4 separate regions of the Homo sapiens genome follow, and all the other regions are linked to region 3. The links come from fine-mapping of genetic effects on gene expression. A gene starts in region 3. Each other region holds a variant in brackets. All regions are shown on one strand. Distances are from middle to middle.

Region 1 (8,000 bases), 21 kb after region 3:
AGATTTTAATTTGGTAGTCCAAATTAATTGTATGGTCCAAGAATTTGTTGTTTTCTTTTCTTCTTCTTCTTTTTCTTTTTTTTAATTTGTAGAGACTAGGTCTTGCTTTGTTGCCCAGGCTGTTCTTGAACTCCTGAGCTCAAACAATCCTCCTGCCTCGGCCTCCCAAAGTGCTGGGATTACAGGTGACAGCCAGCATGCCTGGCCCTTATTTTTACTTATTTATTTATTTATTTTTTGGGGGGTACAGGGTCTCACTCTGTCTCCCAGGCTGGAATGCAGTGGTGTGATCTCTGCTCACTGTAACCTCTGCCCTCCAGGTTCAAGCGACTCTCCTGCTTCAGCCTCCTAAGTAGCTGGGACCACAGGTGGCACCACCATGACTGACTGTTGGGGATTTTTTTTTGTAGAGACTGGCCATGTCGCTTATGGCCAGTCTCTAACTCCTGAGCTCAAGCCTTCCGCCTGCCTCAGCCTCCCAAAGAGCTGGGATTACAGGTGTCAGCCACTGTGCCTTGTAGTTTTTATAATCAAAATATCCTTAGGTATACTGAAGTTTAAATGTCACTGAACTAGGGTTTGGAAATCAGTCCTGCTTTTTACCAGAAGCCAGTCACACAGTAGGGTTATAAATACTGTTAGATTGTTTATATTGGCATTTGTTTCCATTTTTTTCTGGCTGTTGCAGGGTCTCATTCTGCAACAGAGATGTAATCTTAATAGATTGTTAGCTTTCTATTTGAATAACCATTCCCCTTCTCATTTTTTATAAAAGCTCATGCAATTCATTTTAAGATAGCCTTTTAAAAAGTTACATTCATTGTCAAAGTAAATTCCTTTGGAGCATTAATAGTATGTGAAATATATTTTAGATTTTTGGAGTTAATTCAAGGAGGCTTTGTGGTTTTAAACTGCACAGGTAGTTAGGAATGACCATGGTTGAAATATATGTATATTCTTGGACTCTGCATGCATATTTCAAAAATTGGTAAATGCTTTCATATGGGAGGGGGAGGGTTGGGAGGAGATACTTTATTAATAGAAGAGATTCAGTTTTCTTGACCAGTGTAATAGATCTTGGTATTCTAAGTTCTGTGCTTTGCAGATGTTTCCACAAATGAATTTTTTCCCCCTAAAGACAAGATTTTTAGTTCTATGTTCTTCCTTCTGGGAAAATGAGGAACCTTTATTTTTAGAAATGGGAGCTAGGTCCGGGTGCAGTGGCTCACGCCTGTGATCCCAGTACTTTGGGAGGCCGAGGCGGGTGGATCACGAGGTCAGGAGTTCAAGACCAGCCTGACCAACATGGTAAAACCCCGTCTCTACTAAAAATACAAAAATTAGCCGGGCGTGGTGGTGTGCGCCTGTAATCCCAGCTACTCAGGAGGCTGAGGCGGGAGAATTGCTTGAACCCGGGAGACGGAGGTTGCACTGAGCTGAGATCACGCCATTGCACTCCACCTTGGGTGACAGAGCGAGACTCCATCTCAAAAAGAAAAAAAGAAAAAAAAAAGGGAGCTAAAGTTAATTTTGTGTCTTTGGGTCATATATACTCACATCATTTTATATAATGTATTCTTGAAAAGTTAGAGATAAATAAAGTAAAAACTGCAGCAAGATTTACAGGCATTTGTCAAAATTTATAGAACTGTATCCCTAAAAAGGATGAATTTTACTTTACGTAATTATACTTTAATAAACCTGATTTTAAAAAAAAGGTATCAGAGGAACTTGTCACTTTAGCCATGCTTTTTGTGAATTAGTTTGCAAAGTAAAGATTCCTTTTGTGAAGCATGTATTCCCTCAAGGACCCTCTCTGTTTCATACTTGTTTGAAAACTGTTCTTTGTGCATTCTCTCCGTTAGTGCTTAGTGGGCTGGGTGGAGTGGAATTGGTGCAGGGCTACTGAGGGATGGGCGCAGCCTCTTATCCATTACTCTTAGTCATTTCTTTCTTAGAACCACATCTGGCACATGTGGGAGTTCACAGAGGTTTGGGGGATGAATTAAACCATCAGATTGATGAAGAAGCCGAGGTGCAGAGAGCGAAGGGGCTTGTTCAAGTACGGTGATAAGGTAGCGTAAGTGGGAGAAGAGTCCTTTGGTCTTCTGACTCCTAGGCCAGTGCCCTTCCACTGTGCATTCTCCAACGCATAGTGTATCTTGTAAATTCGTGTTTTATAGTTTGGGAGTCTTTTAAACCAGGGTACATCCATGTGCTTGCTGTGGTTGTGGAAGCAGCCTATTCTTGTAGAAGAGCCCTGGCTTTGGAGTCATTCATCAGTTTGGCACATCTTTTTCTGGGTGTCTACCAAGTGCATGGTGGATACAGCCTGAAACAAAACAGACCTGAGCCCTGCCCTCATGGATAGCACAGTCTGGAAGCGTATGTGTGGACCGAGGCATTAAAACAAACCAAAGAGGGATGAATGCTGCAAAGGTCACAAACATGCTGATGTGGGAACCCACCGCATAGTGGCCATAATTTAGTGTGACCTTGGACAAGTCACCTAACCACTGTAAGCCTTAGTGTCCTCATGAGTAAAACGTGTATATCATCCCCAAGTAATGAAGTTATTGCAAGGATTTAGTAGATGATGGATGTAAAACAGATAGTTCATGCTCCTGGGCACATGGTAATTAGATGTTATTCCTCCTTAGAGAGTGTGAGTAATGGATGTGTGTGTGTGTGTGTGTGTGTGTGTGTGTGTGTGTGTGTGTGTGTTTTGTTCCCATGCTGCATTGGCCCTTGTAGGCAACCTCAGGATAGAAGTTTGATATATTTTTTTTTCTTTTGGGTCATCTTAACAATGGGGAGATATATTGGAGGGCTCTGCAGGGTTTTGCCCATTGAGGTTGAGGTTGGAGCAGAGCTTTCTAGTCAGGGAGCTGAATTATGCTAACAGGTGAGCTGAGATAGTGAATGATGCCTTTAGTCTTCTCTCCATTCCTCTGGGGCTGCCAGGACTTAGGCCCTACTGACATGGTAATTTTTCAAGTACGCCAGAACTTGGAAAAGTTTGGGAGATTATTCATCTCTCAAAATGGGGGCCCTAGAAGCAGGGGCTAGGCTGTTAGATTTTAAGTTAACTAAAGAGAAAAATGGAAAGGAGACAAGGGGACCCACGGGTTGTGTGGGAACTTTAGAAGAGGGATGTGGATGAACTAGTTCAGGGTTTCCCAGACTTCTCTGATGATAAGATTCATCTGAGTACTAACTCAAAGTAAATTTACACAGCTCGCTGGGCATGCTCTGGCGTATTTAACAGTTAGCCCATGTAATTCTTACCAGGGACTTTTGGGAAACACTGGGTTAGATCATAAGTCTCTTTGTCCCTGCGATTTAAAATCGGTCTGTGGACCAGCAATTTCAGCATCACCTGGAAACTTGTTGGAAATGCAGAATCTTAAGTTAATCCAGACCTACGGACTTAGAATCTTCATGTTAATCAGATCCCGAGGTGAACTTGCATGCATACTAAATTTGGGGAAAGGCTTGCCTAGAGGACTGGGACACCTGTCAACATTTGAAACCAGTAAGGTGGTGGTAACAAGGGCTGATAACCTTTTTGAGGAATTGGAAGAGACGGAGGTCTGGGATTTGAACTCAAGTTTCTGGCTCCAAATTGAGTGCTCTACTCAAATCCTCTTGAACCTGTGGTCTTTCATCATCTCTGATGGCAGGGTGCTAGCTGTCCTTCTGTTAATGTTGACCCTGGAAGAATGATGCCCAGGGAGACAGGAGCATGTGTTTTTTGGCACGACTGGGACCACCCAAATGTGTCACAATTCTTGGCATCCATTAACTCTGTCAGGACACCTTCTTCCTGTCCCTGGGTAAAGACTTACATTCAAATGTAAGAGTCAGCAACTTTGAGTTCTTGAAGACCTGTGGAGGTTTACATCATACCAGCAGTGGGTCCTTGAAAAAGTTGTTATATTTTTGTCCAAGGGCAGGATCAGATGGAGTACAGTTTTTCTAATGCTCCCCTAGACTCTTAAATCCTCCTTCTCTAAGCACAATGTCAGAGGAAATACCCTGCGAGGCACTTGCCAAATGGCTTGAAATAAGCGTCCGTGCACATTTCTGAAAAGACAATTAGAAGCTTATTTGAGGAACTAAAGGCCTGCTGTGCTAGACATTAGTTGGAGAGAACTCAGTGCCAATTTGGGAAACTCTCCTGGGGGCT[C/G]TTTCTCATCACAGCCCCTGTTTGGAGAAGCTGAACTAGAGAAGTGGAGAGACTGCAAGGCTTGGGAGAGTGGAGGATAGGGAGGAGGGGAAGAGGGAGCGATGTGCCCTCGAGAAAAATGAACAATGCCAATGTCTCCTCCAGGGAGAATTGAAATCTTTGCAGGTAAAATCAAGTGGAAAAGGGAAAGTCATTATAAGTTCATCAACACTTGAATTGTGTTGCTAGTTAGCACTGGTATCCTGGCCTTGGAAGACTCTTTAGCAAACTGAGCCCTCATGAGGTTAGTGCCCTGCCCAAGGTGACACATGGGGTTAGATATAAAGCCTGATCAGAATCCAGGGATCTTATTTAGTCCATGCACTGCCCCTTGTGCTCTGCTGCCTTGGAAGATGCTAAGAATGTAAAATTACAATGATTGGATCCAGATGTGCTGGCCCTGCCCCCACCCCCAAGCTAACATAGTGAGTTTTATTGCTAGTCCATCTGAAGTGTACAAGGCATAAAGATCAGGAAAGAAAAATCTCAAGCCAGTAAATATCCCTATTGTTGGGGATGCTATACCCGGCTGTTTCTCTTGGCTTGACGCGCCAGATAGAGCGACCTACGGAACACAGAACAGGGAAAACCTCTGCACTGTAAGTGGCAGGATGTTTGTGTTCAAAGTCATGGCGTGAATTTATATGCTATTGCCAAGGTCTGCAGGGACAGGTGCACATTAAGTTTTTAAAATTAAATTGTAGAAAGGCTGAAACTTTACAGCGATTCTTGTAGCATGAGTAGGGGATCTGAAAGGGCTCCAGTGCAGAGGCATGGGGTGGATAGAGGCATTTTCTGTGATGAAACACCAGATTGCTTGTGCAGAAAATCTGAAGCCTTTGACATTTATGTTGCACAGTTCAGCAATAGATTACACATTGTCTTGGTTAAAAATGGTTTAATGTGTATGCCTATTTTATTTTTGTCCCCTAGATTGAGTTTTGAAGGCAGGAACCAAGCCCTTTATTTATCTGGCAGTCTGAGGGTATGGTAAATGATTGGAGCCATCTGGCTGCAGTGGTCAAGGGAGATTGCCTTGGGAAGTTGAACTTGAGCTAGAGGCCAAGTGCACTGAATTTTGGTGTCTTTCCATGTGGTTTTGGCTGTGGCAGCTGGGCCATTACAACTTCATAATCACATGTCATATTGGTTGAACTCAGTGAAGTGTTAGCAAAAAAAAAAACTATATATATATATATATATATATATATAATTTGAGAAATTAAATCCTTTTAGATGATAGTAGGAACAAGTAAGTGGTGCTTGAGGTTTAATTTGATTTGAGAATGTGGGGGAGGAGAGTGAGCCTATGCTTTGATTTCAGTGGTAGAGCACTGGTGTTCCAAGGGGATTGTGTTTGAGAACCAGTGGGCTTAATCTTGCCACTGAATCCAGTAAGAAGCTAGTTTGTCCTTCAAGTAGAGGCTGAGGTGCTGTGTTCAGCAGGCTCCTCAAAGTGTAGTCCAGGACCAGTGGCAGCAGCAGTATCACCTGGGAACTTACTACAAATGCAAATTCTCCAACCTCACCCCCAAACTACTGAACCATACGCTCTGGGCTGGGGCTCAGGAACCGTTGTTTTAACAAGTTCTCAGGGGTGTTCTGCACACAGAGGTTTGAGAACCGCTGTCATACAGTATGTAACAGCAAAAGTGATTTGGACGTTCAGTCTAGTGGGTCATTTCCCAAAGCATTTCATGTTTGGTTGCCTTCTTGTTCTGGTAACACAAGCCAAGTTGATGGGGGTAAATAAAGTTAGATTTCCACTAGTGCTTAGTAATAAATTAATGACAGCTCCAAGGTCTGGCTGGACGGAACCCTCGAGTCTACCTCCAACTTGGCTCTAAAAGCAGACTCTGGTTGTGACCCAAGGAGGAGTAAATAAAAGAATTTTTCCTGTCAAGCATGCCTTTTAAAATTTTTATTATTTATTTATTTATTTATTATTGAAATGGAGTTTCGCTCTTGCTGCCCAGGCTGGAGTGCAATGGCGTGATCTCGGCTCCCTGCAACCTGTGCCTCCCAGGTTCAAGCAATTCTGCCTCAGCCCCCCGAGTAGCTGGGATTACAGGCGTGCACCACCATGCCCTGCCAATTTTTGTATTTTTAGTAGAGACAGGGTTTCACCATGTTGGCCAGGCTGGTCTCAAACTCCTGACCTCAGGTGATCTGCCCACCTCAGTTTCCCAAAGTGCTGGATTACAGGCGTGAGCCACTGTGTCAAGGATGCCTTTGATAGTCATGTTCCTATTAGGGACAGAGATGGACAGATTTCTGGGAGGAAAGGGTAGGAGAGGTGCCCGAACTGACTGACAGCCGTGCGAGTTTCTTCTGAGGAGACGTAGCAAGTGGCAGGGCTGAGACATGGATATGGATGTTTTTCACCTGTGTTCAGCTGGCTGCATGATAGCAAAAATGTTTGATGAACATTCTGCTGCTGAAAGGACTTTTTCATTGTAACAGTTGAAACAGAGCTCTCTGTTTAAGAAACGTTTCCTGGTGGAACAAATGATTCCAACTGAAACAAACTAAATGTTGAGATAGGATTTACTTTGACTTTGAGGGGAAAGAGGACAGCTAACAGTGCCCATTCATTTAACCCCTGCTTGCCCCATTCTGGGGAAACAGCAGCCCAACAAAACAGGAGTCCCGCTCTGCTGGGGTGACCCAAAGGAAGAGGCCCGCTGCCAGGCGCTCCTGGCACAGGGAACAGTGTGTTCCAAGGGTTGGGCCAGTGGGCTCACGGTCGCTGGGTCTGCTTCCTCTGTTTGGAATTTGTGGTCTTTGCAGTGTGTGAGGCTGAGAGATTGTCACTAAGCTATGTCCAGAGGTCCACGTGTCAAGTTTTAGGATCTCGGAGTTGTGGGGGGTAGCCCTCCATGTCCATGCAGTAAATCACATCATAAAACTTAAAGGGACCCTATTTTAGTTGAAGATGTAATTGGCTTAAAACTAATTTAAAGGGAGTCAGGTCTGGGTGGAAGTTGGGATGATTCTGTGAAGAATGTTGGGGAAATATAAATTAAAAACAAAGTTGGTTGGGCACAGTGGCTCATGCCTATAATCCCAGCATTTTGGGAGGCCAAAGTGGGAAGATCGCTTGAACTCAGGAGTCTGAGACCACCCAGGGGAACATGGGGAGACCCTGTCTCTACAAAAAATACAAAAATCAGCCAGGCATGGTGGCACATGCCTGTAGTCCCAGCTACTTGGGAAGCTGAGGCAGGAAGATCACTTAAGCCCAGGAGGTCAAGGCTGCATTGAGCTGTGATCACCACTGCATTCCAACCTGGGTAACAGAGCAAGACTCTATCTCAAACAATAAATAAGTAGATTAATTAATTAAAAACAAAATCCCTCTTCAGTCCAGAAAACCTCTCCACAAAGGTAGAAGAGAAAGAACACAATCTTATTATTGGCTAAGCTTTAAGCCAGAATGTGATGTGTATCACAGGCAATCTGCTAAAGGAATTGCAGAAAGGGAAAGAAATATTGCTCTTTTGTGTAGCTAAGTAGATACAACTCATTATATTTATGTTTTCAAGATTAAATTGCTAAATTTGCCGTATCTTTGAGGCTGGAGGTAGGGTTTGCAATTTGGAGTCAGGTGACAGCTGAAGTTAGGCTCATTTCCTGCCCAGAATATAGCATTATCTTCCTTGATATTACATATCAAAGAGATGACTCTCAAGCCATTGCGAGAGAGGCTTATTTAGCATTTGGCCTGACAGGAGCCACCCTGCCCCTTTGCCCAGAGGAGGGTGGCTTGAAT
Region 2 (8,000 bases), 370 kb after region 3:
GCCCACGTTCTTGAGGCAGGAGAAGGGCCTGAACAAAGAAGGAAACACAAGGACCATGTGGACCTAAAGCAGCCCCAAGAGCTGGTGTATCTGGGAGTCCTTACCCATCCAGCAAGGCCAAAGGGGTGTTACCAGCCTCAGCAAAGCAGAACAGGTGGATTCAGGAAAGCAAATGAGTTGAGGCTGGCGGGGTGGAGCCTGTGGAACTTCCTGAGCCAGACACCTCAGTAGGTGCCAGCAGCCCTCCATGGATGAGGAGGGAGCTGTTGCACCTTGATATGTATTTTTGTCATCTGGATCTGGGCTCTACAGTATGGTGGCCACTGGCTACATGTGGCTGTTAAGCACTTGAAATGGAACTAGTCCAAACTGCGATGGGTTGTAAATATGCAGTGCACACTGAATTTCAAAGACTTGGTATGATAAAAAGATTGTAAAATCTCAATATTTTTAAATTGGTTATATGATGAAATATTTTGGATATACCAAGTTAAATAGAAGAAATTATTTCATTAATTTCTCTTGTTTCTCTACTTATTTTAAAGTGACTGCCAGAAAACTTAAAATTGGGTATGTGTAGACCTTGGTCTAGATGCTATACCCTGGACCTCCTATCTGGGGTTCCAAAGGCTAACTGATTACATCTCCTTTAAGACTACCTGGGGCTCAGCCTATCCCACCACTATGTCAGCACCTCCTTTTTTCTTATTCTTTCTTTATTATCTGTGCTTAAGATTTCTTGCCCTCCTCTTTCTTGGAGTGACTTTGAGGGTCGCAGAACTAGACATGCTTGTAATTACACAGGCTCTGAACATGTGAGTTGAACAGGAACCCAGGGCTGAGGACCGGGGTGGACCCCTCTGCACTGTAGCATGGGGTACCCCCAACCTAGCTCCATGCTTTGTAGGTCCTGTCAGCCGCCACAATTGTTGCCAAGCACACGTCAGCCTTGTGCAATGCCTGCCGCATCGCCTCATCCAAGACGGCCAACCCAGTAGCCAAGAGGCACTTCGTCCAGTCAGCCAAGGAAGTCGCCAACAGCACTGCCAACCTGGTGAAGACCATCAAGGTAGGTCGCTGGACTACCGGCCTTATTGAACTCTGTAACTCCTGTTCTGGCGGGGGAAGGGGAACAAGATTTAAGCTCCACTCCTCTCCTTGTCTAGTGAAGCTTAACTTCTAATTCAGTCTTATGGTTTGTGTCACTGAATAGGCATCCCTTACTAATGGAGATACTCTTCTTGAAAAACCAACAGGCTTGGGCTCTACTAACCTTTTAGATGGTGGGGAAGGAGGCCTCCCCAAATTCTGTACATGAGGAGCTTAGGGACAGAACTCTGGTGGGAAAGGGTTGGTTATAGGGCCTCTCTTAGCACTGTGCTTGCGTAGCAAATACCCTGATTTTACTTAAATGATATGTTTACTTGCAGCGTTTTTGGGTGGGCTAGTAGAGGGCTCTCCCATCATTGCTGAATATATCTGGACCAAGAGAGTAGGTGGAAGGAGAAGGGAATGGGAGATTGTGGAAAAATCACTTAAAACATTTTCATCATTCCTGTGATATTAATTCTGTTTATAGCTGTTTGAATGTTTTAAGTGGAGCGTCAACTTTTAAAAATAGAGCATCTGGTGTTCATTAAAAATTCACCTTTGCATTAAGGTATATGGGCATGTGGCGGGTGGGCAGGTTCACTTGCAAGAAGCAAGTGGGAATCACTAGGCCTTAGTACTTGTAGGTGGGCGATGAAGCCACAAACACAGTCTGCCCTCAGCTAGGACCAAGCAGGCAGCAGGCAGCTGACCTGTGAGAAAACAGCCACAGCCTGGACAACAGACCGCAGGCAGAAGGCCCAGCACCATCGCGCCAGCTCCCTCCACAGCCCCAGCCTTCAAAGGAGCATTGTCATGGGAGGCAAGATACCAGTTCTGTGTTAAACCCTGGACACCACTGAAGGGAAAGGCATTGAAGGAGTTAACACTTTTTAGTTAAGGGTTTTGTATTCATTCAGATAGGAGGTTTGGCTTTGCTGCTGGGACAGTCCTAGAGTAAGAGAAGTTTTCCCAGTTCTCTCCAGAGGATAGGACACTGCACACCTCATTTTGTTTTGACTACAAAAAGCCAGTGCAATTGCATGCAGAAATCAGTCAACAGGATGACCAAGCAGAGGCAAAAGGAGAGAACACCCAGCCCAGCGCTAGTTGGAAGCTGGCAGTCAGCACATGGGGCTCGCACCCCAGTCAGCAGCTTCTTAGCTGTTTAAACAAAGAGTCTTTTTTTTTAGAAATGAACAAACAAAAACCCCTCCCTATTTGAAGGCAAGAGTAAGCTCAGTTGAAGTTGAATAAAGCCAGTGTCCAGGTTCCCCATGATCCTGGTGGCAGGTTACCTGAATTACCATCATAGTTCACAGTAATTAGGAAGTAATAAAGCTTACATTTAAAAATGTTTATTTTGTGCTTTAGGTATGTTACTCATTCACTCCATACAACCACCCTGTGCTTATCCCCATTTTACAGATGGGAATCTGAGGCACAAAGAGGTTAAGTAACTTTACCAAGGTGACCCAGCCAGGAAGTGGTGGGGCAGAATTCAAACCCAGGCCCCAGAGCCCCTGCTTTCAGCCCTGGCATGCTGTTCACCTCTTTGGGATGGAGAGACGAAGTCATCTCTCCAGCCTGGGAAGAAAGACCTTGCTGTGTTTGCAGGGCTTGTGTGTGAGTTTGGGGAGGTAAGGGTGGAAAGAGCGATAGAGTTGACAGCAGTGACATCGTTGGTTGCTGTGTAATGAGCTTATCTCAGTTAAAATCAATCATTTTCTGGTCGTTAAAAAACATTATATTTAGATGGACCAACGGAGTAAAAACAGGAAAGACACTCTTTATTCTGTCGAAATTTCTGGAGCCCTTTCTTGTCTGCCTCCTCTTCAGTTTTAAATCCTGACCTATCTCTATATAAAGCATCTCTGTTAAGATCTCATGTTCTTTTCAGATTCTCCTCACAGTGTCAAACCCTCTTTGCGATTCCCTGCAGCAAATGAGCTCTCGTGATGGCCTAAAAGATAGGCCTGTGCAGAACATCAGGGGAGGAATGTCGGGGGGTTGTAACGTGGAAAAGATAAAGGCCTCCGTCTCCTGGCGCACCCTGGGAACGAGGAGCAATGCAAGAGGAACAGAAATGAACGTGCTGCCCCTCCGCGTGTGGAAATGGGCCTGGTTTTTCAATTCCCATCATGTGGCAGGGTTTGCTGGGAGCCATGAGCTTTGCTTTTAATTTACTAACAGGAAAGTGGTAAAGGTCATTTCACTGTAGCACATGGTACTATATACTGAATAGATTTCCTGTTTGAAGGAATGGTTATGTGTTCTGTCAAACAGAAAAACAAATGAATATTTAATTCCCTCAGTGCTTAAGACAGGTGCCCTGATAGCTGCATATTGCTCTTAAGTTTTATGCTGCTTAGTGCTGTTTTTTTCTTTTAACCATGAGGATGTGCCCAAGCCTAAATCCCAGCTGCCACACCCTTATAGTCATGAAGAAGGGAGGGGAGCCACCAAGAGAAGCACGAGGGAGCAGGAGCAGATTACCTCACACAGTGGCTCATCGGCATCAGTCACTACTGATGGCACTCTTTAAAATCCCAGAGCAGGGCTCCACGAGAATCCATTTCTGTGTTTCTGCCTCCTGCCAGGGATGGCTGTAAATGCTGGGCATGGTAGAAGGATGCACACCCCTAACCACAGCGGCTGTCTCTCCGAGTCACCACATACGCTGTTGCCTGCCTTTTTCCTTTCATTCAGCTCATTACCTAGTCTTGAATCAGATGTGTGGAATGGAATGTTATTTTAAATGTGCAGTCACTCACATTTGGGTGCCAAGTAGAAATTATGCAACAGCAGCGTTTGTTTTTCTGAGAAGTTGAAGTTTGGCCTTGCCCCTCACAGCAGAGTTAAAGCTCGGGGTTTTTGCAATTAAG[C/T]ACTTTCAGTGTGTACCACAGACACCCGATCCAGCTCTCTTTAATCGAATTTGACTTGGCTGTGAGTATGCTTTCTTGGTCATCCCTATGTTTGGATTGGGAAAGTGGTTTCTTTAGAAGGAAAAGGAAAAAGGCTGTTGGGCTTTTTACTCCTTGTTCTGTTGCCTTTGTCTAAGGTCAGCAGGAGAGAAGGGAGCCAGGAGGCTCGGTTCATTGTTTGAGGCATGCCAGTGAGTAGCAAGGTGACCTTGTCAAGTCATGTCACTTTCCAGGTGCTGGTTTTATTGTCTGGAGAATTGGGAGTTTAAGCTTAAATTGTCTTTAGGGTCCCCTCTAACCCCCAAAGTCCATGAATCTGACTTTGTGCATACACAGAAATTGTTTCTCCCAGATGTCCGTGGTATTTTGCTAAGGGGGAACACTTGGAGCAGGCTCCGGGCTTGGGAGTGTTCTTGTTCTGGTGGGGCCTGGAAATATGGCTGAGTAAATTTACCCTTTCATCATTATGGCTGGTATGCCAGATGTTCTGTGACATGGAAACTCTCATGCTTGCTTGAAATGTCACCACTGGGCAGCTTTGAGTATTCAGTTTACTTGAGTGGCTCTGCTGTGCCCAATGGAAGCAGAGTTCAGAAGTGAAATAATACCTGTGCAAACTATCCTTTCTGACGCCGGATGCCTTTTCTGGATAAAATAACTTGTCCTTTTTGAGAATGGAAAATGATTGATATGGCTTGCTATTCTAGTTCATGTTATTCAAGGCTTTGACCTGCAAATAGCAATGGGCTATATGTTAATATGATTTTAGGGCCTGTGCTCAAAACAAAAGCCCCAAACAAACAAACAAACAAACAAACCCTGTCTTTATTCTAATAGTGCTGTCTGTGACACCTACACAATTAGAAAACCATTCCTTGAGATTTCCCTTGAGTTGTCATCTTTTTAGTCTGAAGAAGTTCAGCTTAGGCTTAGTGGCTTGATTGGCTGCCCTTCTTCCCAATAGACTGAGAGGTTTGTGGGAGCAGAAAGGGGAAGAGAAAAGCTTGGAGAGGTAAGAAGCAGGAAGGGCGAGCAGCACCAAGGGAAGGCTGAGCATCTCCTGTTAAGCTGGAAGTCGTGTGATCCCAGCTGAAGGGGTATGATTGGAGAAAGCCATGTAGCCACTGGTGGGGCTGGGACCTGAGTTTCTTCCACTCCAAAGTCCACTCTTGCAATCAGCCTGCTTCACTCTTTTGCCTGTGTTTGGGCCCATCTGTGTCAGGCTCCTGCTGAGTGGCACCCACCCTGCCTCGCACTGGTGTTCTCAAATTGCTCTGAAGTCTGGTAAACCCCGACCTCCAGGGATCTACCAAACTTCAGAGCGATATTAACAGTGCAACAAGATCACAGTACCAAAGTGGTTCACTTCTACGTGGCCAGTGCCGGCAGCATAAATCAACATTTACCAGCTATGTAAGTGGTAGTGAGAAATGAGGCTTTATATGTGAGCAAGAAGTAGCCGGCGTGCAAGGGTTTCCATTGGGCCTGGAAAAATGGCAGAACTGGAGAGGTGAGGGTAGGGTCAGGGCCTGTCTGGTGGGGGAAGGGCATGAGCCAAGGCAAGCCAGGTACTATATTAGCAAAAAACAGTAAATTAGCCAGGCTTGCGGGAATTCCTCTGAAAATATTAGCATTGTGGGTATGTAATTATTGTCCCAAGCTGCCAAGGCTTGATTGGAATGTAGTTGTTATTCAGAAATCGCCTTCAAACCAACGGTGGCTGCCTCCTCTTGCTCTACTGAAAAACAGAAATGCTCCCATCTCAGATCTGCTTTGCTTGGTAATGCCAGTGCCCCTGTTTTTTTTTTATCCCAATTGTCTAAATTGGCTTTATATGTTGCTCATAAGGGTTAAGTTAAAAGTTTAAGTGGTCATTTAACAAGGAAATTTGCATTCTTCTGCAAACATAACTGCCTTGTCAAGTGTAGCCTTTTGCTGGGAGGGAGGGTTTCTGTCATTGGGTCACAGGCTGTAGGTTCTAACAGTCTTGATCCTGAGGAGGTAGAGTCCAGGGCTGGGAACCTCATCGAAGTGTTGACCCTCTGTTAGCAGTCTAGCATGGATCACAGGCCACATTCCTGGATCCTTATCCATCCAGACCGTAAATCAGCAATAGGCCTGATCATGCAATGCCATTGTGTTACCTGCTGTTAGTTTTTTGTTTTTGTTTTTTTTTAATTATGAAGCATAAGATACACACAGAGAAAACACGTTATGTTTAGAGTTCAGTGAATTTTCTCAAGTGGAACACCCCTTGGTAACTCTAGCCAGATTAAGAAACAGAATGTTATTGACACCCAGAAGCTTTCCTTATGCTCTCTCCGGTCTTATCTGCTCTTCTAACACCCTAGATTAGGAGGGTCACCTGTGTTTGCACTTGGTACTAATGGAATTGTACAGGAGGCACCCATTTGTGGGTGGCCCGTTTTGTTAAATATGATGTTTGTGAGATTTATTTGTATGGCTGGGGGTAGTTCTCATCTATTCCTTCTCATTAGATTCCATTGTGTTCATTTCAGAATGATGACAGTTATGCCTGCCTTGCCTCCATCAGTCATTAGGGAATATCCAGGTAAAACTTAGAAAAAGTTAAAAGTACTGCTTTAAAATACAATACGGTATGTTTATTGTTTGGAAGAGAATAGATTTAATCTGAGTAAAATGAAGGCAAAGATCCCAAGGATTGTAGTCTCAAAAGTGAGGAGGAAAGTAGTCCCGCTGCATAGTCTGGTGCAGGGGGTCACGGGGCGTTGAAGAGCAGGGTGCTGTTTAAATCTGTGTCTCTGCTTCCTGGGAGTGGAAAGTTGACTGTGGAGTCAGTTGTCCTGTGAGCTACACATTTAATTCTCCACAACATCTAACTGGGCCCCTCTGCTTGATGGCAGGGGTCTCTTTCATCAGTTCCTATTTATTGTTTATGAAGTCACCAGAGATTTTCAGTGTTCCGGTTGAACCACCTTCTTTCACTAAGAGGTGATTACTGTGGTTCAGAAATAATTTGTGCTTCTCAATTGGGCAGAATCTCCCTGTTTTCTCCCATCAGGCCCTGGATGGGGATTTCTCTGAAGACAACCGCAATAAGTGTCGCATCGCCACCGCACCCTTGATTGAAGCTGTGGAGAACCTGACAGCGTTCGCCTCAAACCCTGAGTTTGTCAGCATTCCTGCCCAGATCAGCTCCGAGGTAGGGAGTGTTTACAGGAACATCATACTAAGGTCTTTGGCTAACTTTGTGTGGCACCAAATGAGTTACTAGTTAAAACTCCAACAGCTCTCTCTGTCAACATGTAGGCTACTGTTACTCTTGTCAATGATGGCATGTGCACAGTTAGTGAAACACAATGACTACACCTCTGTTGAGAGATAACATATATGTAGAGAACAATCTTACTGCCTAGGTTTGGGGCGATTCTTGGGATGTGTCACACTCAAAAAATGCTATTTAAGGGGCAAACATGGGCTTGAGTCCCCGCCATGCAGACCCCTGGTAATCCAGTCTTCATGGTTCCCTGCCCTCTTTGTCTCCTTCAAAGGGCAGAGGTGGTGATTTGGCAAAGAACAGGACCTTTCAGGGCCCACGTCATTCACTCATGTCTTCGACCCTGACTTTGATTTCTCTGCTGTTTGGTCTCAGGGTTCCCAGGCACAGGAACCAATCCTGGTCTCAGCCAAGACCATGCTGGAGAGTTCATCGTACCTCATTCGCACTGCACGCTCTCTGGCCATCAACCCCAAAGACCCACCCACCTGGTCTGTACTGGCTGGACATTCCCATACAGTGTCCGACTCCATCAAGAGTCTCATCACTTCTATCAGGTCAGTTTCCCATCCGGAGGTTGCTGCCAGCCTGCATCTCAGCGGGGAAGGAGGAGGATAAGCCCACCAGGCTTTTTACTTAATAGTGATATTGTTGATCATTATCATCTTTTTCTTTTCTCTTTGGGGCCGGAAGCACTGGTCACAATAGTAATTGCTAACTTAAGTACT
Region 3 (8,000 bases):
ATTTTATTATGGCACAAAATATTCTCTTATAAATAAAGTATAACAAAATATTTGGTGGAATTTCTTTTATTTTTTCAACATGGACACAGTTGAGTTTGCTCAGCTATGAAAGCTGAGCAAAGCCACCCCAGATACCTACAAGTGCTCAACAGGAATTCAGGAGGTTAAGGCTCAGTGCAATGGGAGGAGAGGGGCAATCTCTCAGCATCCAGCTCTTTAGCACCAAGCAATGTCTAATTTGGTAATTACAAATCTGACTTGTGAAGAAAATGGTTTTTCGTTCCAGATATATTTATTACAAGTGACTTGGAAGCTATCTCTTTGACTTACCTCCCCAAATGTTCCACTCTTTATTCATACAAAGTGTATTTATTTTGCTACTTAAGATCTGCTGGGCAGAAGTAAGAGGCTGTAAGGCTTGAGAAATTGCTTAGATGGAATGTTTTATCTCCCACCCTGTTTTCCTCTGCTGGGTAGAGACGAAGCCCCAAAATGTAATCTTGTTAAAAAAAGTTAGATTTTGTTTTTTTAGTTTTTTTTTGCTGGTCTACAATGAACTATGATCACTCTGAATAAAGACAGCGACTACTAGTAGCTGACTCTAAATTTAGAAATAACTTTTTTTAGGTCTAGGGAGGCATCTCAATTTCAGAAAAGTTAGTAAAGGTTACTGGTAAAATTGCTTTTACTTCTACTGGGGAAATTTTTGAAAAATATAATGCTAGGACGTAGAATGGTTAGTTGATTTCTCTAAAAAAACAGTAAATGGTTTTTAGAGCCCTAAGAGTGGTTAGAAAAACCAGGAGCTGTAAAATTAAGAAGTGTCCAAAGCCAATTGGTTTGAAGCTAGAACTAAAGCTGAGTTCTAAGGCTGATGTTCTTTCTCACTGGGGGAAAGAATTTAATTGACCTTGGAAAGCCACAGAATAGTGCTATCTGGCTTATTAATGCCCAAATATTCAGACACCTGCACCTCACCCTTGTGAATGCCTTAGGATTTAGCTGGAACTTTGAAAAGTAACTGAACCAAACCAAGGCTATAACTCTACAGGATCTCAGCATCCCAGAATTTTGCTGACACTCTAATAGAATAGATAACTTTTCAAATATCTCAGGAACTAGTAAGATAGGTAGTGAACAAATAAGGCTATTTTCATAAAGCAGATTTTTATTGAGTACTTATTAAATACTATGTGTCAGGCTCCTTCAGGCACAGAGATACAGATGAGGTTCTTGCTCTCATGGAATGTAGCTTCCATTACTGAATGGCATCCCGCTGATGGGTAGTGGAAAAGTGTGGGGATACTTTCAAGAGGATGCATTAAGTAATGGAAAATCTTGAAATCCAGGTGTCAGAAAGATTTTGAGATGCTTGATAGGAAGCTATTGGGCCCTATGAACGGAGGACTAAGTGGAAGGGGAAAATCACTTAAGTTGCAACCATTTTTTCCTTTCCTTCTTGATGAGCCTCTTATGTAAACCTGGCATTTGGACCATAAAAATATGGTTATTCTTTGTTAGTAAACCAAGGAACAATTTAGGTGGCATTAATTTAGTGAGCTTATTACCAGGCTCATACAGAAATCAATAAACATGTACTTTTTAATCAACCCCTGAGGTGGCTTGTTGCCACCACTAGTTATTCTGTGAGACTGGTGAATGTTTAAAAAGGCGTGGTGAACAAAAATACTTTACCTGTACAATGAGAAATTGTGCCCTGCAATTTTTAGGACTTTCTCAAGTTGCCAAGTAATTGGTTCTCTCACTGTGCATTGATAATGTATACTTTGTTAGCTTTACAGTTTATATTCTGCAATAAGTTACAAAGTTGTACCCTAAGGTTATCTTTGCTGCTATGATACATACAGTCCGGTTCATCAGCCTGGTTAAGGACAGGGTATTGTTCTCACAGAATGTCCAGCCTTATCCAATGTTCCAACGGACTTATTCAAAATAATTTCAATTTACAAAATCAATTCAGTCTCCGGTTTATGGTGACAGCAGTTTCTTTCTCTGAGAAACACTAAAAAGTTGCCAGCAGTTCCATTTGAGTAACTGAATAGATTTGCTACCTATTTCCTGGTCCATTCTGTATTGGGATGGAAATAATGTCGTCTTTCCTTTTTTTTTTCTTTTTTGAGACAGAGTCCCGCTCTGTCATCCAGGCTGGAGTGCAGTGGTAGGATCACCGCTCATGCAGCCCCCGAGCTCCCGGGCTCAAGCGATCCTCCCACCATTCTCCCCAGTAACTGGGACTACAGGCATGCGCCCCCACACCCGGCTGATTTTTAATTTTTTTTGTAGAGATAAGGTCTCGCTATATTGCCCAGGCCGATCTTAAACTCCTTGGGCTTGAGATCTTCCTGCTTTGGCCTCCCAAAGTACTAGGAGTAAAGGGGTCATGGCTAATTCTTGTTTTTTTAAATTACTAATGTGTCCCTTACAGATAAATAAAAAAGTAAAATTACTCACAATTCCACCAATCACTGAGAGACTTATTGGTGTTTATCTATCCAGTCTTTTCTGCCTTTCTCCATAAATCACAGTTTTTAAAAACGGGACCATACGGTACATAGTGTTTTGTCTCCTCACCCCCTTGAATAACCTTCACATTGTTCCATGGTATTTACAGTATTTACTAATAATGACTGTAAATGTAAGAGGTATATAACTGACTTTATTCAGGGCATGGCAAGCAGGAGTGAATTATTTTCTTCTTATCAACACAGCACGCCCCTACCGCCACTCATCCCTATAGTCGTTCTCTAAATACCTAAGTGACACCTGACCAGCAAGGTTTCAGGGTCCTTGTGCTGAAAGGAGCAGGCTCGCCTGGGGTCACGGCCCTCCGCTTCGCAGCAAGACCCCACCGCCCACCACGGCCCTCCAGTTAGCCACAGCTCGCTTCCCCCAGGACCGGGCCAGAGGTCCCGAGAGGGCACTCTGCGGACCTAGGGGCCCCAGCCTACAAGACGCTGTGTCCTGCAGTCATCCCCTTTACACAGCAGAGCCCCAATTCTGGGAAGCCGGGGTCACCCCGAGCCTCCCTTCCCCGTGACAGCTCGGCCGGTGCATCACCTTCCCTCGCGGACCCTTTCAGCATCACCACGCGTGGGAGGAAACCCAGGACGGGCGCCTGAGCCTCGGTGGCGGCCCACCCCGGTGCCGCGCGGCGCCGCGGCCGGACCGGCGCCGCGCCGTCCCCGAATGATGACGCGCTTCCTGCCCTCCCAGCGCTCTCGGGCAGTGCGCTCGCGCTCGCCCTCGGCTCTTGTTCCGCGCCCGGAGCCAGCGGCGGCGGCAGCGGCTGAGGCGGCTGCGGGAGCGGAGTGGTCGCCCAGCGCGCGGGGGGACGCGGGCTGCACTCCCGGGCAGGCGCTCTGCAATGAGACAGTAAATGCATCCCCCGGTAAGGCGCACGGCTCACTCGGGTTTTCCTCTTCCTCCAGCTGCATGCACGTTGCATGAATTTCTCGTGTCTTTTCCCTCCCCTCTCCAGAAGGAAAATGTGGGGTTTTTTTTCCTCCCTTTTGCTTCTCGTGAGTGATGCCAATGCAGGAAAAACCCGTAAAGCTCCCAGATTTGATGGTCTAGGAGGGCTTCTTGCAGGAAAATAAAAATAAAATGAAATTAATGCACCTGTCTATTGCACATGTATGTTTCACTGCACCGGACCCGGGCGCAGCGGTTTGCAAACAGCCTCGCAGTCGGCGCCAGAGAGCGGATTCCTGGCCGTGGGCAGCCGGTCCCCTCCGGGGCTCTCGCTGGGTTTCCGGTAACTGGGCTTTGAAAAGCGGCCCCGCCTGCATAGAGTGTCCCCTCGACCCCAGCCGGGCCCCCGCGCCAGAAGAGTTGGCGCTGGAGGAGCAGCTTCATTCCAGCACTGGCCGCCGGGACTCCAGCGCCACTTTGCAAACAAGTCTCCCGCCGAGGCTCTGGGCTAAGACAGCCCGCCAGTGCGGAGTTCCTTCTCCGGTGCCGGACACTCAGACCTGCCGATCCCACGACTGCCCTTTACTTGGCAATCTCGCCACGGGCGAACTGCTGGCCGCTGAGCGACGGGGGCAGTGCCGGGCCGAGAGCGGGGCCAGGCTTTGCATCCAGTGCGGCTGGCCTCACACAGACTCAGCGGCTCCCTCTCCTTCCTCGGTCCCACGAGCTGAAATTTTGCGCCCATTGGAAGCTGGAGGGACCTGGAGACGAGTATTTCGGGATCCCTGAGGGGACCGAGGAACGACTTTCGAGGGCGCCATATTTTCAGTGGGTCTTGACTGCGGAGGGGAGGGGGCGAGCAGTTTCTGGGTCCCGGGGAGAGCCCCGCGCCCCAGTCGGAGAGGCCTGATCGGTTGTCGCCGGGAAAGTTTGCGCGCCGAGGCAGGCGCGGAGGCGGCCGCACAAGGCGCGCACGACTGCTGTCCCCGCAAGGGCGCGCGGACTACAGCGCGTCGCCACGCCAGCCGGCGGGGCTTGGGAACGAGAGCCGCCGTCACGGACAGCGTGCTGGGCTTGCCGCCTTCCTCTGTCCCGCCTGGACCCGGCCTTGGGGCTCCGAGGCTCAGGGAACACGCCCCTCTTCCCCGCAGCTACCGCTGCCCGGGTGCTCAGCCGGAGCCGTGCGCTGGGCGGCGTCCCGGGGCTGGGCGCCGAGTGTAGAGCGTTCTCCCGGTGCCCGGGCTCGCCTGGGTGCTCCGAGGGGCGCAGTAGCTCACTTCCTGGGGGAGAGGAGGCGCCTTGGTTCGTGGATCAGGACCAGGGCCTGGCCTGTGGTCGCCCCGAGGCCGCCGAACAGCCTGAGCTTCCAGTCGCCTCTTTGGCTTTAGCGGCGACAGCAGTAGCGCCCGCGGCTGCGTGTTCTGCTCTCGCAGCTCGTAGAGGCGAGGAAAGGAGGGCGTTTCCAGAAGTTGGGGCTTCAGGTGACGCGTGGGGAAACTTGGATTCTTGCTGTCCTTGAAGAGCTGGGACAACTTAGGCCAGAATTCCTGTGTCTCATAGTGAAAACTTCTGGTTCTTTCCAGAAGATGAGAGAGGAATGAACTGAAGTGTTGGCGTTGTCAAAGACATAATTAAAGACGGTTGGGTAGGGATGATGTCTTGGAGAAGTGGTCCCCAAAATACACGTAAATTGCCCTGGTGCTGTAAGTACCACTTACTTTTCCATTAATAATACCTGGGTGTGTTAAGCTGTGGCATTGTAAGGTTGCACGCTGACCTCCCTTCTCCAGAGCTTGGAGGCAGCGACCTCTCTGGAGTGAGGGGGAAGCGGGAGTGGGGAATCTTTACTTTTGAAGTAGACTGTGACCTCTGCTTTGTGATGGGACAGGGCACGGGCGTGTTTGCCAACCTACAGGCAGCCAATTGCAGGAACGTGTTCTCCTTGGAGTGTTACCGAAATGATGTCATAGTATTGAGGTTTTGTCGGCACTTCCGGTCTTCTTCACTGAAGAGGCTAGAAGGGACCACAGAAACCTCTGGGGTTGGGGGTTAGGTGTGCAGAGGGAGGGGAGAGGCTTTCCTGTGGGAGATGTGCCTGGAGATGTTAGGTGTTAGGCAGCTCTTTCCCTGATTCATTTCATGAAGCGCCTGCAAAAGTGACTCCGATATGAATGTCAGCCAAGATTTTACCTACCTTGATTGCTTATTTGGGACCTCTATGCAAAATCAGAGGATGGCGGTGGGTGTGACAAGTGGTCTTGAGAGAAGAGGGATGCCTACACGAATGCCTTTTTTTTTTCATTGAGCACTAGAATAGTGGAAAACACCCAGAGCCCAAGATATATTTTTCCAAAATTAGCATAGCTAATTTAGAAGAGAAATCAGTTGCAGAAAGCCTCAATCCGTTTTAAGTTTCCAGTCTTAGAGGGAGCACCTTAATCACAGAAACAGGTCTCTTCATATTGGGGAAGCCACTGGTTTCTCTCTGCCTTTGTAACCATTTAAGTTATCAGGGAGATTCCAAAGAGTATTAGAGGGTCTCTCTTTTTGGCATTGATGTGGAGCTTCTACCTCGAAAGAGAAAGCGAACTTTTAACAACTTGACCCTGTTGAATGAGTTACTAGGGATATTCTGTACAGGCATAGGCTATATATGTGTTTTGAACTCATCTACTGCTGACTCATTCAGGTTTTTCCAAACACTGTTCCCTAGAGTATTTTTAAGTGAAATTAGGGTTTAGGAAGAGGTGAGTATGTTATTTTCTAGTCAATATCTGTCTTTTCTCTCTCAAAATTAACCTGATTTCCCCTCCTTCACCCCTCACTCCCAGAACATCGTTAGTTCTCTAGAGCAGTAAAGGACGATTACAGGTGGTGAATGATATAAATTTTTACCAACTATGCTCAGAAAAAAACTATGCATCTAAATAGGTATTTATGCATTTTAGCGTTATGCTTTGTAACTATGTATATGCCACATATATTTTATACATGTTAAACCTTACATAATAAAAAAGAGAAGCTTTATTGCAAACCCTCCAATCTTTATTCCCAAGTTTACTACCTTAATATTTATCTTTTTTTTAATGCCTCTCTCAACAAATTGTTATACATCGTGCTTTGTTGCCTCTTGCCTGATTCTTTTTTTTTTTTTTTCCGAGATGGAGTCTTGCTCTGTCACCTCAGCCTTCCAAGTAGCTGGGACTGCAGGCACGCACCACCATGCCCAGCTAATTTTTGTATTTTTAGTAGAGACAGGGTTTCACCATGTTGGCCAGGCTGGTCTCGAACTCCTGACCTCAGGTGATCCACCCGCCTCGGCCTCCCAGAGTGCTGGGATTACAGGCATGAGACACCGCACCTGGCCAACCTGATTCTTAATCATCATAACTTCATGGCTTGACCAAAATTCTTGCATTTTTTTCCTTTTAAGATTTTGTAACTTCAAAAGGTTAGAAAACGAGTATGTGTTTTGGAAAGTTGCCTGTCTGTTTACCAGTCTGTGTAGTGGTGTTGTGATGTGTGTGTGGCATGTCCAGACTCTTGAGACAGTTTCTACAACTTGTGATCTGTGACATTATTGCTCCAGAACTTTTGAGTCATAATGTTTTCCTGATGATTTTGAGTGGTCGTTGGCCAGTACAGGAAGTACTCAAAAAGAGCTAAATAATTCAGTTATTTTTATTAGGTACAAAAATTTTAAAGACAAGAAGGAAAACATAATAAGCAGGCCTGGAATTACAGCTTAACATACCCACTGGTGCCTTTTTAATTACAGTACTTTCCCCAGAACTTTTTAATCGTATTACTTTTATATCTAATAAGGAGACTAGTTAAAACATAAGCCACACATAACTATTACAAATAATAGGGATAAATGGTGGGTATGACCAGATGTTTTGCCTAAAGTTCAAAGAGTTAGGGAATGTGAACTCTGTCAAATTTCCCCTGCAGGGCCCACACCCCCTCCTCAATAACCTGGAGAAAGGCAAAGAAGTCAGGGTGGAGGAGGGGAAGATAACATGCTTAAGGTAGACCTCTCTTGTGTGTTGACCACCCTGACAATCTTTGGCTTGGGGCAGGTGCCATTTGAATAACAGCTGGTGGACAAGGTTGGGTACAAAATGCTTTAGTTGTGAGAGTCTTTATATGTCACCCAGAGCTATGAATTAGGACTGGGCTCATTTGCCACCCATTTCACAGTGGAGTTTCAGAGACGGTGCCAAGACCATGGTTTTGTTTTTCTCTTAATCAACAATTTAATTTCAGTCAAACTGATGCTGTTCTGAAAATGTAGAACAAGGAATGAACATTTGTATTTTCTTTTTACTCTTTTAGCTGCAGTTTTAACAAACTTAATTCCCTACGTCTGTTATTCACTCATTCAGTGTATGTTTTTGAGGGTTTACCATGTACTTTATGCTGAGAAGACATCCCCTGCCCTCACAATGCCCACACATTGTGTTCCGAGGAGGTGATACTCTTTTGTACTTTGTGTATCTAGTAGCCAGGGCGGGGGTGGGGTAGAGGGTGGGGAGATGAGAATGTGATGAAATAGTAACTGAAAT
Region 4 (8,000 bases), 130 kb after region 3:
GTGATCCCTCTTTTGTGGTCCCTCCCAACACCTGCCTGCCAGGTGGGAAGTGATAGCTTTCCTGCTCAGCATCTGTGATGCGTTGTCTCTTCCTAGTGCTGGTGTCCTTTGCTTTGTGTTAGAACTTTCTGCTCTGTTGTAAATGTTGGATTTCCTTCCTGTTTCGACAGGGAAATGTCTTATAGCCTGGGGTCAGCTGGAACAGTGGAGGGAGTGTATCCCATAACCTTGTAGACCTTTACCTTTTGCTAAGGGCAAGTCACTTAACCTCCAGTTACCCATTTGTGAAATGGCCCATCATTCTTCCCCTGCAGGGTGATAGTGATGATGAAAAATGAGGTGTAACAGATACTAAAGGGTCTAGCAGAGTGTCTGGCATATGGACAACTCAGTAAATGCCAGATCCTTCTCTAGGTTTCAATCCAGATAGGGTCTAGAAGAAGTTCTACACAAAATTGGTGCTAAATAAATATTGATGGAATTGCAAACCCTTTCAGAACCTGTTTGGCATTTTGTAGCTGCAGATTAAATGGTGTAAAAGCCTGTAGCCTTGTGTGTTGGAGCTGTGACTCTGGCTCTGTTACACTGATTTCTGTCTTTAGTCTAGGGCGGAGAATATTCCAGATCTCTTACAAGTTAACCCCTCCGCCCTCTACTAACCAAAGCAAAAGAAATTCTTGTCAAGGAGTTGGCAGAAACCTCAACATTAGCTTTGCTATAACTTGAAAGACACAACTTTCTAGTTTTTGCATAATATATGCGCACAGCACACACTGTACCTAGCTGCTTTACTTTGGTCACCAGTTGCTTGTTGGCTACTAGCCTAGTATGCGAACACCTCCAGCTTTTTTAGTTCTTGTTGGTAATTAATTTCCTAGAGGCTCTTATTACTTGTGAACAAAACTTTTGAATACATTATGAATGAGGTTTTACCTGATGTCATTATGTCAGTAGTGTTATGAAAAAAATAACCATAAAACTTTCTTCATTGTGGCAGTGAAGTATAATTCTGTTAAAAAGATCAAATGTCTAATGCTCTTAAGAAAAATCCTGAGTCTCCCTTTACAAGTACGTATGGCATGTTGGGAACAAAGTTTTAATACGGTGCTTTTTTCCCCTCTCAAAGGTCTTTTATAACCTGTTTTAGGCAGATGAGCTTGTTTGATTAAGAGTGGTAATTAATTCACAGTGGTCATTAGCATGTAAATATAATGTGACCTTCACATACTGTAAGAAGAGATTTTATTTTAGCAGTTCATGGGCATTGACTTTTGACAGAGGGAAAGAAAGGGAAATTGTATCAGTTAGTTTGGTGTATTATTTCAAAACATGGAAATTAATTTTGTGTCAGGTTGTAATTGTAATTGAAGTGTTAAAGACTTCGAGAGTGGTAAATTGCATTTAATCTCTCAGTAGTCCTTAAGTGAGTATTCAACAGTTATCTTCCTAAATAATTGGCATTGCTAATGAGAAGAGTTAAATCAGTTTCTATCTTTACCCTGTTGGAGTGTGGAATTAACAAACTGGGAAAATGAAAACTTTCAACTTTCCCAGAAGAGAGTAAATATGCAAAATGCCATTTAAAAAAATATAACTCACTTACACCAAGGAGAGCGGAAATGTAAGTCTGGAACATTTTGTGGAGAGGAGCAGGTATGAGGCAAAGGTACAGACCTAGGAATTAAGAGCACGTGAACCTTGGAACTCCCTACACACTCTGTTTCCTTCTCTGTCAAATGAAGCTGCTTAGCTAGAGAAGATCTAAGGCCCATTTTAATGCTAAGATTTTTATTATTTCTGTTTCTCTGATTTTTTTCATCTTCTATTTAAATCTGTGTGGTAGATGGCTATCTTCAGTCATACTCCCAATATAATTTTAATCCCCCCAAAAGTATATTTATCATATCAGTTAGCTCTTGCTATTAGCTCAGCACTGTGTTGGTGAGATTGATCCATGTTGTTGTTTGCATGACTGGTTTGTTCATTTTTATTGCTGCATAGTAATCCATTGTGTGAATATACTATAATTTATCCATTTTACTGTCACTGGAAATTTGCATAGTTTCCAGACTTTGGCTACTCCAAAGAGCCAGCAAGTTGTGGTCTTGTTTTCTGGCATACCTGTGTGCAGGAATTTAAAACTTTCTCTTTCTCCTTTTCTTTGAAATATAACTATAACAGATCCTATTATGTGTTGGGTTTAGTAAACTTTGTGATGAGTGTTCTCCCTGAAGGAGAGGGCATTTCTTACTTAGATACAAGAAATTATCCTTAGGCTTATCTGTGTAGACATACTACCAGTGACTAAAGGATCACTGAAAACATGCATACAGTTTCTAGTTTTTAATTTGATCTTCATTTTAAGTGCCTTCTGTGCATGTTGGGGTTTTTGGTGTTTTTCACACATCTGATTTTTTTTCAGACGTGTGTTTTTATATCAGACTCCAGTGAATTCTTTTGGTAGTGGACAGGTCGTAAAGTATAAATAAATCCAGCAGAACATACTTGCCATTCCTCTTGTAGGCACCCTCTGCCTGTCCTTTATGTGTGCTGGGCTTGCCCCATAGCAGCTGTGGTTGCTGGCATGTCCCGCTGTGCAGTAGCTCGCTGCTGCTGAACCCCCTATGCAACAAGATCCTGGGTGGGGAAGGGCAGCTCAGGTATGATGTGGCCAGGACTCGAAGGGAGCCAATCAAGTGTGAATTTCAAAACTGAAGACATTTGATTAGTGTGACTCTACTTTGTGGATCATCCAATGCAACCATCTCTTTTTACAGGTGGAGACCTGGGTTTAGAGAGGTCAAGTGACTTGTGCAAGTAGAGACCATGTCTTTTGCTGCCGTTTCCGTTGCAGCTTATATGAAATTATTATTTATAGTTGAGAGGGTAAGGCAGTATGAAAAGAAGACAGTGTGCTCACAATTTATTATAGTTTTTGGCAATAAGAGCTTCTAAATTAGGTCCAGAACAACATGTGAGTTTGCCTTCTCCTTTTTGCAAATGACATACAGCAT[C/T]CTTTCCTCTTTGGATTATGTTTTCAGTGTTTTTATATGGGTCATAGGTTTATTTTGGTCCTAATCACATTATGCAGTTAGGAGTTTTGCTGCTCTGCCTGAAGAATTCTACATTTTACTCTATTTGTTTTGACTACAAATAAGACAAAATGTGTCTGTCAGGTGAAGGAACATATTCACTCTATGGTGTTGGTAGTGACCTATAATTATCTCAAATCTTTTGATTTCAACTTTGGGTGCATGCTTGCTTCTGGACAGCTGTTGCAGCCTTGATCCGCCTCTTGTCTCTTTTCTTCCCATGGCTGAAGGCCTGGTGGTGTCCTTCTGCCTTTGGTACCATCAGTCTCTGCCCACCCAGCTTAATTGGACAGAAGCTCTAGGGGGCAGGTGATCAATCATACCACGACTCATTTGCCTGTGCAGTCATTCTTAGTAGCTTTGCCTCGTATCATTTTGAGAGCAGAAAGTTTTTTTGGGGCTGCTTATTTAAGATTTTAGGTAGGAGGTGAGGTAATTGCATGAGGCAGAATTAGGTATTGATAAACTTGGTCCTGAGTTTTATTGGAAAGGTGTAGGTTGACTGGAGTGGAGGGAGATGTGGGTTTCACTGGAACTATCCAGTGATGGGATTGTTCTGACTATGATGCTGTAGATTGAAGATATTGCTGCTCCGTCACCATGTGGCACCTCCTCACTGTTACTATTTCATTGAAGATCAGTGGATACGGATGAAAGAGCTAATAATATTTCAGTGGCTGGTGGATGTTCTGAAGCCAAGGATGGCGAGAGGTTGCTGCTAATTCAGAGATTACCAAACCTTCGCCGTTCCTCCCACTTTGTGCCTTGGAGTCCCCACTTTCTGCACCTGTGCCTTTCATCCTTTAGCCTCTTTGTCCAGTCTTTACTACTCCTTAGGCTCACCCTTGTCCCTTTGTCCTCTTCCTTTTCCTTCATACCCTGAACTGCTGTTAGTAGAAAATCACAGTAAAGGTTCACACATTTGTTGTACTTGGAATAAAATGGGATGTTTCATGTTTTTGCTTGAAAAATAACTGAGTTAAATCCTTATAGATACAAACATAAAGATATCCCAAACAAAATTGTTTCTACTTTTAAGTTTGCTTGGGGGCCATGGTGGTTTACCCCCACTGCATTTGCCGAGCAGTGGAGAAAAATGAGGTGGTGATTGCTGTTTTGCAATGAACCTGAATAATTATTCCACACCCCCAATATTTTAATTTTGTACCCCTTTTGTAAACAAAAAAATGACATTGGCCAGGAGAATGAGGACTCTACTTACATTCTAATTTGTTTTTTAAAAGTCAAACACACCGCTAATGTTATAAGAGAATTGGTGCTTTGTGGCTTACCACATTACCCACTTGGAAAAACAAACATGTTAATTCTAAGGAACATACTGATTTGATGGTACAAAAGTTTCCCAGACCTGTTGGGTAAGTCTGTTTGTCTCTTTCTTTTTTTAAATGAAATAATTATGGGAGACTCTGTAGCCATGTCCCAGCTCTGCCACTTACTTAAATATCCCTGGACATATTACTTGAACTATTTAAGCCTGAATTTTCTCATAAGAAAAATGGGGTTAATGATTTTACTTAGCCATAAGATTGTTGTGTGGAACGAGAGTAAAGCACTGACGTCAGACTGAGCACATAGTAAATGCTCATTAAATATTAGCTAGCAGCAGTTTTTTTTTTTTTGAGATTGAGTCTCACTCTGTCGCCAGGCTAGAGTACAGTGGCATGATTTCGGCTCACTGCAACCTCCGCCTCCTGGGTTCAAGCGATTCTCCTGTCTCAGCCTCCTGAGTAGTTGGGACTACAGGCATGCGTCACCACGTCCCGCTAGTTTTTGTATTTTTAGTAGAGTCGGGGTTTCACCATGTTGGTCAGGCCGGTGTTGAACTCCTGACCTTGTGATCTGCCTGCTTCGGCCTCCCAAAGTGCTGGGATTATAGGCGTGAGCCACCACCAGCACATTTCTTTATAGTTATTTGTGTCGGAGGCAGGAAGGAGCCACACAGCTTGGAGAAGTAGGAGGAGCGTAGGTTTTGAAGACAAATAGACATGGGTTCAGATTTCAGCTCACTAGCAAGTTTGGTATGACTTTAAACTTGTCTGAGCCTCAGGTTTCTCAACTGAAAATTAAATTTCTATCTACTTTATCAGTGTTTTGAGGACTAAATGGGCTAGAACATGCAAAATATGGTGAACGGTGGAGAGCCGTGACCTGCAATGTTTTTTTTGTTTGTTTTTTTGAGATGGAATTTTTGCTCTGTCACCCAGGCTGGAGTGCAGTGGCGCGATCTTGGCTCTCTGCAACCTCTGCCTCCCAGCTTCAAGCAATTCTCCTACCTCAGCCTTCCCAGTAGCTGGGATTACAGGTGCCCGCCATCACACCCGGCTAATTTTTGTATTTTTAGTAAAGACAGAGTTTCACCGTGTTGGCCTGGCTGGTCTCGAACTCTTGACCTTAAGTGATCCACCAGCCTCAGCCTCCCAAAGTGCAGGGATTATAGGAGTGAGCCATGGCGTCCGGCTTGCAATGTCTTTTTTAGTGTGGATTAGTGGTATAATGATTTAAGATTTATTGGGCACTTTACATGTGCCACACACAGTTCTAAGCAGGATTAGAAATATTAACTTGTTTAAACTTCACAGCAATTCTAAGAGGTAGCTACTACTATTGTTCTTATTTTATGGATAAAGAAACTGAAGTTTAAGTGGTTAAGCAACTTGCCCAGGGTCATAGACCTCTATGTTATAGAGCTGGATGAACTTGATATGAAGGTGGAGTCCACAGTATTGACCACAGATCTGGGGCTTTTAGGTGAGACAAACCCTTTCCTCCTGAGTGTGCTTTTTATATAAAAGGTAGACATTTCCCCAGCAATTGAAGTTGGCCGTCTCAGTACCTTTGGGTGGGGGTAGTTAAGTACCTCTCACTTACATTGGTAAATAACTCATAAATATTAATGACAGCCCAAGTCAACTCTTGGCCTGGACCATGTTGATTTTTCTGTTAGTGTTCACACCTTTATTTTAAGCTTATCCCTGGTGGCTCATAAATGAGACACTGAGGGAATTTGTTTCCTGTGCCTTTTCAATGTAAATTATTGGCTGGTGATGATGATAGCATATTAAATAAGCTTAACCTTGGAAGCTTAGCCTCTTTGCAGAATAGAGAACTGTAAATTGAAGACTCCAGTGTTCTCTTACTTTTACAGGCTGATACAGGGTATGCCAGCTGCTAGGATTAGGCTAGGAAGCAAAAGTGATTGGTAAAGGAGAGTGGGTCTTGTCAGTGGTGTATGCAGAAGGAAGAGTATAATGTGTAGCAGCAAATTTCTGTTTGATGGTTGAGGACTATAAAATTGGCTACACAGTTTTCAGTGAAAGACATTTTCTAGAAAGGAGTGTGTTACGTGCATATGAAATTGAAGTTGTATTTCTAGGAAAATATTCCTGAAACTTTAAAAAAGTTTTTTAGTTAGTGTTTGTATTACTCCGTTTTCATGCTGCTGATAAAGACATACTTGAGACTGGGTAATTTACAAAGAAAAAGAGGTTTAGTGGACTCACAGTTCCATGTAGCTGGAGAGGCCTCACAATCATGGTGGAAGGCGAAAGGCACGTCTTACGTGGCAGCAGACAAGAGACAGTGAGGACCAGGTGAAAGGGGTTTCCCCTTATAAAACCATCAGATCTTGTGAGACTTATTCACTACCATGAGAACAGTATTGGGGAAACCACCACCATGATTCAGTTTTCTGCCACCAGGTCCCTCCAACAATATGTGGGAGTTATGGGTGCTACAATTCATGATGAGATTTGTTAGGGACACAGCCAAACCATATCAGTGTCTAAAATCAAGTTTTGAACTAAGAGCTACGGAATGTATGCCATTTCTCTCTGGGGATCTGAAGTCTTCATTGTTGTACAGTTGTATGCCTCCCAAAGTTGTGTTTATTAATTGTCACTTCTGATGGAAAATGGCACATTTCCATCTCCATGCTTCTTAGAAGAGCCTGCAATTTACCCCTGAAGTTTGTTGAAGGCACAGAGCTGAGTAATGTCTACATGTGTGTAAGTGTACATATATGCACAGGCATACAGCCTTTCTCTAAGGGGTTAGAAAAGATAACCTTGATAGCTTTCATGTTGAATGTGTGAGGAATACAGAATTGTGAATAGGTTTTGTTATATCTACCCCTCTGTTGGCAACGGGACACTAAGTCAACCTTTTCTTATTTCTTCTAAACGGGAAACATAACTACAGCATAGAGACCAAGGAGGTGGTTGGAAAGATAACCGTATATGTTGCTAAGCGGAAAAAGTAGCATCATATTGCAGATTTAGGAGGTCCAGTATTACTTACTTAATAGTTGTTTATTTTTTTAAAGTGTATATCTGTTTTAGAAGTTCTATCTCTTAAGGGAGATAGAGCGATTTAAAAAATAATCTCTGAGGGCTATCTGTTCTTACTCAGATATTTTTTAAGGACCTTTTAATTTTTATGTACTTGTTAAATTTTTGAAAGGAGTGTGTGTTTAACTCCTTACATACTTAGTCCTTGCCAGGGTGAATGGTTAAATTAGACGTGCAAAAAGCTCCACATCATTGCCTGCTGTTGGCTTGGGTGGAAGTAAGGAGAGTATACTACTTTAAGTTTTCACTTTCTTTTTGTCTTCTTACAGTGTCATTCCTTTGTCCCTCCCATAGATTGACAGGGGAGTGTGTCTGGTCCCTTGACTTCTGGGCCAAACATGCTTAAACTGCAAATCTGAAGCTTGAAGGGAAAGAGGATCATAAGAATAGTTTTGTGGTGAATTGTAGATCACATCCCACCCTTCTCTTTCTCCTTTATGGCTGAATTTTTGACATCTGTGCAGTGCTGTTGAGAGCAAAGAATGGCTGGGGCTGGGTGCCGTGAGGGTGGGGGGTACAGGGGAAAGCCCTGGAATAGGGT

Which allele goes with the higher level. Alleles are on the strand shown, and positions count from the first base shown. SD is a standard deviation of normalised expression in the study named.
As copies of C replace G in region 1, the expression in tibial nerve of the gene that starts at base 3,274 in region 3 goes down (moderate effect, 0.55 SD a copy in GTEx).
With allele C in place of T in region 2, the expression in thyroid of the gene that starts at base 3,274 in region 3 is higher (small effect, 0.15 SD a copy in GTEx).
For the expression in aorta of the gene that starts at base 3,274 in region 3, allele T in region 4 goes with a higher level than allele C (small effect, 0.36 SD a copy in GTEx).

The links.
Region 1: its variant is fine-mapped to the expression of TLN2 in tibial nerve (GTEx, PIP above 0.99). The same link has a PIP of 0.9 or more in esophagus muscle and gastroesophageal junction.
Region 2: its variant is fine-mapped to the expression of TLN2 in thyroid (GTEx, PIP above 0.99).
Region 4: its variant is fine-mapped to the expression of TLN2 in aorta (GTEx, PIP above 0.99).

What each region holds. Positions count from the first base shown.
Region 1 is chr15:62,408,753-62,416,752 of GRCh38, forward strand. The region is part of intron 1 of TLN2 (talin 2); the gene reads left to right. Among named protein-coding and RNA genes, the nearest start is that of TLN2, 22 kb to the left of the region's middle. The variant C/G (reference allele first, on the strand shown) is at 4,190.
Region 2 is chr15:62,754,625-62,762,624 of GRCh38, forward strand. TLN2 (talin 2) reads left to right here. Exons shown (of 59, transcript NM_015059.3): 37 at 908-1,069; 38 at 7,057-7,197; 39 at 7,648-7,829. Among named protein-coding and RNA genes, the nearest start is that of MIR190A, 65 kb to the right of the region's middle. RefSeq lists enhancers at 3,472-4,269, 4,270-5,067. The variant C/T (reference allele first, on the strand shown) is at 3,975.
Region 3 is chr15:62,387,277-62,395,276 of GRCh38, forward strand. It overlaps TLN2 (talin 2), which reads left to right and starts at 3,274. Exons shown (of 59, transcript NM_015059.3): 1 at 3,274-3,409. RefSeq lists enhancers at 2,694-2,763, 3,682-4,296 and silencers at 2,930-3,126, 3,174-3,503.
Region 4 is chr15:62,513,326-62,521,325 of GRCh38, forward strand. The region is part of intron 1 of TLN2 (talin 2); the gene reads left to right. Among named protein-coding and RNA genes, the nearest start is that of TLN2, 130 kb to the left of the region's middle. The variant C/T (reference allele first, on the strand shown) is at 3,015.